2 linked regions of the Homo sapiens genome follow. The protein of the gene in region 1 purifies or fractionates together with the protein of each later gene. This does not show direct contact. Each region holds a gene or a part of one and is shown in the gene's direction. Other genes may lie near its edges.

Evidence for each region. The genes of interacting proteins can lie anywhere in the genome.
Region 2: the proteins of SREK1IP1 (region 1) and RABL6 purify together in Homo sapiens (affinity purification with mass spectrometry; one large-scale study listed by BioGRID and IntAct). This does not show direct contact.

The regions. Positions count from the first base shown.
Region 1 is NC_000005.10:64,758,642-64,762,293, reverse strand, and holds part of SREK1IP1 (protein SREK1IP1), read left to right. Parts: intron 1-2,813; exon of another isoform or gene 2,814-3,652. UniProt on the Homo sapiens protein: Possible splicing regulator involved in the control of cellular survival.
Region 2 is NC_000009.12:136,814,299-136,817,950, forward strand, and holds part of RABL6 (rab-like protein 6), read left to right. Parts: intron 1-184; exon of another isoform or gene 185-252; intron 253-471; exon of another isoform or gene 472-1,233; intron 1,234-3,652. UniProt on the Homo sapiens protein: May enhance cellular proliferation. May reduce growth inhibitory activity of CDKN2A.

The DNA.
Region 1 (3,652 bases):
ACAGAAGTAATTGCAATTTCTAATTACTTAGTACTAAAAAACTTAGTTACTTAAGCTGTATATGTTTAAATTTAAGCGATTCTAGGAAATATTTTAATGTAATGAAAATGTCAGGCTTCCCTAAATTCCAAAATAGACAATAGGAAAAATATATTAAGTTCTAAGCATCACTGTTAAAATTCCCAGTGACTAAGTTGTTGCCTTTGGAAAGATAGGTGATGTAAAATTTCAAGGAAATAAATTTAAATCGAATATGACATTCCTTTGCGGACCACTGACCAACCTGAAGCAAGTGTTGAGGACTCGCCATCTTTCTCTCAATTTTTCTCAGTCCTTTTATTTTTGTCCCTTCTTTTTGGTTTTCTCAATATTTTCTGTTTCTTCGTTGTCTACTGTTAACTTTAAAATTTTTTTTCTTTTGTGCTAACTGCTAAGACATAATTTACATGTTTTAAAAACAGCACAGATCACAAATGTTTGGCTTGAAGAATTTTGACAAATAAATTGAGTGTGTGTGTATACGCACACGCGTATTTCTTAGCTGGCAACTGGGGTCTAGAGAAGTTGCCAGTTTCCAACTTCTGAAGTATAGTCATGCACCACAAAATGATGTTTTGGTCAATAACTGACTGCATATACAATGGTGGTCCCATAAGATTATAATACTCTTATTTTTACTGTACCTTTTCAATGTTTAGGTATGTTTAGATACACAAGTACTCACCATTGTGTTACAACTGCTTGTAGTATCAATACAGTGACATACGGTACAAGTTTGTAGCTTAGGAGCAGTAGGCTATACCATATAGCCTAGGTGTATAGCAGGCTATATCACCCAGATTTATGTACACCATGATGTTGCCACAAGGACAAAATTTCTGTGTTGTGCCTAACAACACATTTCTCAGAATGTATCCCTGTCATTAAATGAAACATGACTGTATTTTCTTAAGCTTATAACCTCAAATCAATAAGTATTTGTTGAGCACCTCTTAGCAACTCTCCATCATGGTAAGCACTGAGTTGGATTCAAAATTATATGGCTACTTTAAGTTACTGGAAGAAAAAGGACCAGCCCAATTACCTGATTCCTCCCACTATCACCCAAGTTGTTTAACAGAATACTAGATTCAGAGTAAGCCCTTAATATTTAGCAAGTATAAGAATGAAGACTCTGACATCATGAATTAATAAAATTTTATTGAAAGTCTGCAATGTAACCTCTCTGAAGAATTTACAAATGCAATAATTGCCTTTTGTCAGATAATGTTTACTTGACAGTTACTTTTCTTAGTGTTACAGTTTTGTTTGTTTGAGGGAGATTTTCCAGATTGGTTTTTGAAAGGGTAATTTAATCACCTTTCACATTTTAAAACTGCCAAAAGGTATATAGTGACATGTCTCTTACTCAAGTCCTTCTCTGTCTGGACTTAGTTTTCTTTCTTCAAGTAACCAATCTATATCCTTACAGAGGTATGTCTAATATCTTCTGTAAGAATTAAAGAAAGAGGTAAGAAACATGAAAAGATGGCTCGCCAGTCAGGACAGATTTATTTAGAGAAAACAAACGTGAGAGGTGCCTTCTGGCCAAGTTAGGTCAGAGGCACACTCACTTACAAACTAAGAGTTTTTAAAGATTCAGGGTGGGAGAGTTTATCAGAGGCTTGGACTGCTTCTCTGACTCTTTGTTGTGCTTATCTGGGAGGGAGAGTTGTGTGTCTGTTCCCATACATCTTTCTGCAGCTGCAGGCCTATCAGTCTGCATGTAGCTTTTCTATCCTAGTGCACCTGAAGGGAAAGGAATGTGCTTATTAAGGCCCACTATTTTACTGGGGCCCATTGTATGAGGGTGAAGTTTGGCAGTTGCTCAAGAGACTTTCCCCCCACCTCCCTTTGTGCCCAGCTGTCTTATCTGTATGTTATTGTCTGTTCTTTCTGGCTGCTTACAATTAGAAGAGAAGTAATTTCCTTGAAATGCATGAGGCTAGAAAGGGAGCTGGAATTTAAAGTGGTGGTGTTTGTCCCAGATGACAGTGCTCCTGCTCTATCATCTTCTTTTTTTTATACGAATGGCAGCATGCCATAAACACTGTTCTGCACCTTGCTTTTTTTCTTTTTACAGTATATCTTAGCGATCATGACATCATTAAATAAAAACCATCCCCATTATTTCATACCGTAATTGATTTAGCCAGTTCCGTATTGATATTTAAATTATTTCTACTCTGTCCCTATTAAAAACAATGCTATAGTGAATAACATTGTACATAAGTCAGTATGCATTTGTGCACATAAATTGGGAGAACTAATTCCCAAATGTGAGATTGTTGTGTCAGAGAGGTATGTACACTTGTAATTCTGACAGGTTTTGTCAGCCTGCTTTCCATAAGAGATAGTACTAATTTATGCTCCTGCCAGCAATGTATGAGAGTATGCCCCCCTACACTTCCTTCAACCTTTCAATCTTTGCGATTCTGATAAGTGAAAATGGAATCCCAGTATAGTTTTTAGTGTACATTTTACCTGTTTTAAGTAAGACTGAGCATATCTCCACATGTTTGAGAGTCATTTCTATTTCCGTTTCTGTGAACATCCTTTGCCCATTTTTTTCCTGTTGGTTACTGATCTTTTTCTTAATGATTTGCTGAGATATATACATAGGGATAATTGCTCTTTTTTGGTCCTATGAGGCGCAAATATTTTTTCCTCAAGTTTCCACGTGTCTTTTGAGTTTGCTTTTGGTGGTTTTTGCCATTCAGTTTTTTTCCAATGTCAAATTTATAAGTTTTTATATAATGCCTTTTGGATTGCAGGTCATGATTAGAAAGGAAAATTTTGAGGTGGGCACACTGTATTACTCTGAACAGCCTTAGCAAACTTCAAAAAGGAATGGAGCCAAGAACTGCACGGGAGCCCAAGGCAGGGAAGTAGGTAACTTAGCTGAGTAAGGACCTCACAATATAGCTCTACTATAGTCACTTTGACATGGATTTTGAGTACCGTTATATCAGCCAGGGTTCTTATTCCAAACGATAGAAACTGACTAGTTAACTTAAGCAGAAAAGGAAAGATATCAGCTAGCTCAGTGAATCTAAGCAAAGCCTGCATAATAAGGGTCAGAAAATAGAAATGACCCAGGGAACCCATATCCAAGATCCTGCACAAGCCCAAACCTGGTTAGGGCTGCTACTGCCAGTGACATCAGTGCCCCTGGAAACTGGATCCTGACAGCAGAATGAATTAACTTTCCCCACTTTATTGTGTCACTTGCCTCAGATCTATTAAGTCAGTTGCCTCAGATTCAAACTCTTGGGTAGAAGCATTCAGTTGCCCAGACAATCACGAAAATTAAAGACTAATGAAGCTGAAATAATAATTTAACCAAAGACTGGTGAGGAACTAGCTGATGTAAAGTACTTTATTTAGAGTTCTGGTTATATTTCCCTGTCATGTAAAAGTTTCAACTTTAGTAAAGATGATGATCTGCCAAGAAAAAGTTTCATAGTTTGTTTACTCTAAAACTGTGGGATACTTGAGTGATGAATTTATCAGTGCCTTTTGTCATGAGTTCAATTCTAATACATGCAGAGATAAGATTATTTCAGATCTATTACAACATTTTTATTCTGTTGTAGTAATAGTAATGATGCAT
Region 2 (3,652 bases), on another chromosome or scaffold:
AGCCTCCCCAGTAGCTGGGACTACAGGCACGCACCACTACGCCCGGCTAATTTTTGTATTTTTAGTAGAGACAGGGTTTCATTATGTTGGCCAGGCTGGTCTCAAACTCCTGACCTTGTGATCTGTCCACCTCAGCCTCCCAAAGTGCTGGGATTACAGGCGTGAGCCACCAGGCCTGGCCCATGGATACTAGTTTTTAACTCAGGAGCAGACTTGTTAAAGTTCAGGTTTCCAACAAAGATTGAAAGACGTTCCAGCCTGGCCAACATGGTGAAACCCCGTCTCTACTAAAAATACAAAAATTAGCCGGGTGGTAGTGGTACACGCCTGTAATCCCAGCTACTCAGGAGGCTGAAGCAGGAGAATCACTTGAGCCTGGCAGGTGAAGGTTGCAGTGAGCCAAGATTGCGCCACTGCAGTCCAACCTGGGCGAGAGAGTGAGACCCTGTCTTAAAAAAAAAAAAAAGGCACAGTTGGTTCTGTGCTTCTCACTCTCCACTTTGTGTTTCTTGGCTTCAGAAGCTGCTGTTTGGTCATTTCCTTCATTTTCCAGGTGCTTCTTTGACAGACCCTTCCTCCTCTTTGTCGTCTTCATCACTTCATCCTCTTCATCATCGTCACCCTCGTCCTTGTCCTCATCATCCTCTTCATCTTCATTCCCAGCCATCCTCTTGGCTTTCCCAGGAACAGCATTTGTAGAAGCTTTCTTTCCTTTGGCTGGTGTTGTTTCCATAGGTGCTGCTTCAGAGCCATCTTCCTCAGCATCGTCCTCATCGTCCTCGTCCTCATCCCCTGAGGCAGGGGCACCCGCTGCTGCCTTCATCACTGCTGGTTCAGAGTCATCCTCCTCCTCATCGCTGTCTTCCTTCTTGGCGTTCTTGCCGTTCTTTGCCCCCTTGGCTGGGGTGTCCCTTCTTGCCAGGAGCTGCTGCCAGTGCTTTGCCTGCTATGGCTCCCTTCTTGGCAGGTGTGGCGACTGCTTTGCCTGGAGTGACAGTTGCTTTCTTGGTGGGTGTGGCACCTGCAGCCTTTTTTGTTCGGGAAACTGTCACCTTCTTGGCTGGGGTTGCAGCAGCCTTCTTGCCTTTCTCCTGAGGTGTGACAGTCTCTTCTCCACAGCTGTCATCTTCTTCATCTTCTGACATTTCCTCATCTTCACTTCCTCCTTCTGCCTCCTTTGGGGGAGCAGCCATTTTCTTGGGGTCACCTTGGTTTTTACCTGCCTCGACACCAAGTAGTCTGAAGCTGCTGAGGATGGGAAATCTTTGCAGGGTGCAGAGTGGGAGAGGAGCAAGGTGTGGCTGACACCAGCTGCAGCACAGGCTGTCAGGGTGGGGAGGTGGCTGGGCCCTTGTAATGGGCCCAGGAGATGCTGCTGGCACTGTGAGAGGGCCTGGTTAGGAGTTAAACCTTCATGCATCTGAGATAAATCATAAGCTCTTCTTGGTATGAAAATGTAAGAAAATTATTCCATATTTTGCAGGAAAGCTGCAGGAATGTGAAGGAGTTAAATTGAATCAGGGTAAGAAAGGCTCAGGGCCTCAAATAGAGCTCTGTGTTTTCTGCATTGTATCTTCTAAAACAAGCTTAGAACAGAGGTCGTGTTCACATCCCGTTTAGTAAAAGAGCAGGTTTACCATGAGGTTAAGTACAGGTAAGTACAGGGCTTCTTAGCGTTTCTTGGATGAATCCTAAAGGTTTTCCAGGAGAATCACTTAGCTTATTGCAGCCAACATTTAAGATTCTGAAGTTAAGCAGAAAAAAAGAAAACCCAAGATCAAGGGACCAGCAGGAGAAAAAAAAGATTCTGAAATTGATTTTATTTATTTAGGGTCTTGCTCTTTCGCCTGAACTGGAGTGCAGTGGCGCAATCTTGACTCACTGCAGCCTTCACCTCCCTGGCTCAAGCAATCTTCCCACCTCAGCCTCCTGAGTAGCTGGGACTACAGGTGCACGCCACCATGCCTGGCTGAGTTTTGTAATTTTTGTAGAGACAGTGTTTCACCATGTTGCCCAGGCTGGTCTCAAACTCCTGGGCCCAAGCGATCCATCTGCCTTGGCCTCCCAAAGTGCTGGCATTACAGGAGAGAGCCACTGCGACCAGCCTAACTTTTTAACTTAAAAGTAGAGGTTAAGTTGGGCATGGTGCCTCACTCCTGTAATCCCAGCACTTTGGGAGGCCGAGGTTGGTGGATCACTTGAGGTCAGGAGTTTGAGACCAGCCTGGCCAACATGGCAAAACCCTGTCTCTACTAAAAATAACAAAAATTAGCTGGGTGTGATGGGCACATGCCTGTAATCCCAGCTACTCAGGAGGCGGAGGCAGGAGAATTGCTTGAGCCTGGGAGGTGGAGGTTGCAGTGGGTCGAGATCGCGCCACTGCACTCCAGCCTGGGTGACAGAGTGAGACTCTGTCTCAAAAAAAAGGGGGGGGGGGTAATTTTTTAAAATAATTAAATCAGATTATTTTACTTGCCTTATTTCTGATGTTACAGGATTTCTTGTAATTAGCTTTTTTAAAAAAGAGTTTGTGGCCATATAGTAGGTGTGTATATGGGTAATTAGCTTTTAAAAGGAGTAAATTTCATTTCAAGGGAGAGAAAATAAGACTCTTCATTCTCAAAATGTGAAGATAATAGAAAACAAATGTATGTTAAAATTGATAAAGATGTAAAAGGAAGCAATCTTAAGACTAGTCAAGACTGTATGCCCATGATATGTGCAATTATTATGTCAATTATAAATACAAAAAACCATGAGCAGACAGTTTATGTTTGAAAAAGAAACAGAATGAAAACCTCTAGAAATGAAAAACATAGTCATTAACGTTAAATCAGTCAGCAGCAGGAGAAGCAGCACGAGAAGCAGCACTAACTCAGCTGAAGAGAGGAGCAGTGTTGGGAAGAGATGTGCGGCCCAGGGAGGAGGCGATGCCAGCCCATGTCCAGTACAAGTTCCAGAAGGAGAAGAGAGCAAGAAAGGAGAAAGGGAAGACTGAGGACTTTCCAGAGTTCATGAAATACAGGAAACTCCAAGAAGTCCAGAGTTTAAAAACATCCACAGCTAGATACATCATTGGAAATTTTCAAAACATTAAAAAGTAAACATCTTAGATGCAACCAGAACAAAAAGACTTCCCTGAGAGGAGCATGCAGTGGACTGGTGACCAGCTCGCAGCAAACCTGTGGCTGAGGGGAGGCCGACGTGGGCTGAGGGGAGGCCGACGTGGGCTGTGGGGAGGCCGACGTGGGCTGAGGGGAGGCCGACGTGGGCTGTGGGGAGGCCGACGTGGGCTGAGGGGAGGCCGACGTGGGCTGAGGTCTCTGTCTGATGAGCACTTGAGAGCCGTGTGACTGGCTCCACTTCTGCCGAAGCTTGAGGCTCACTGTGCAAAGGCTCTTTTAGAAATAAATACTGAAGGTTATTCTTCAGAGAGGTGGAGTTGAGCTCGAAACACAGGAGTGGATTTCAAAAAGCAAAGGGGGCCGGGTGCTGGCTCACACTTCTAATTCCAGCACTTTGCGAGGCTGAGGCAGGTGGATCACTTGAGGTCAGGAGTTTGAGTCCAGCCTGGCCAACATGGTGAAACGCTGTCTCTACTGAAAACACAAAAATTAGCCGGGCATGAGGGCAGGCGCCTGTAATCCCAGCT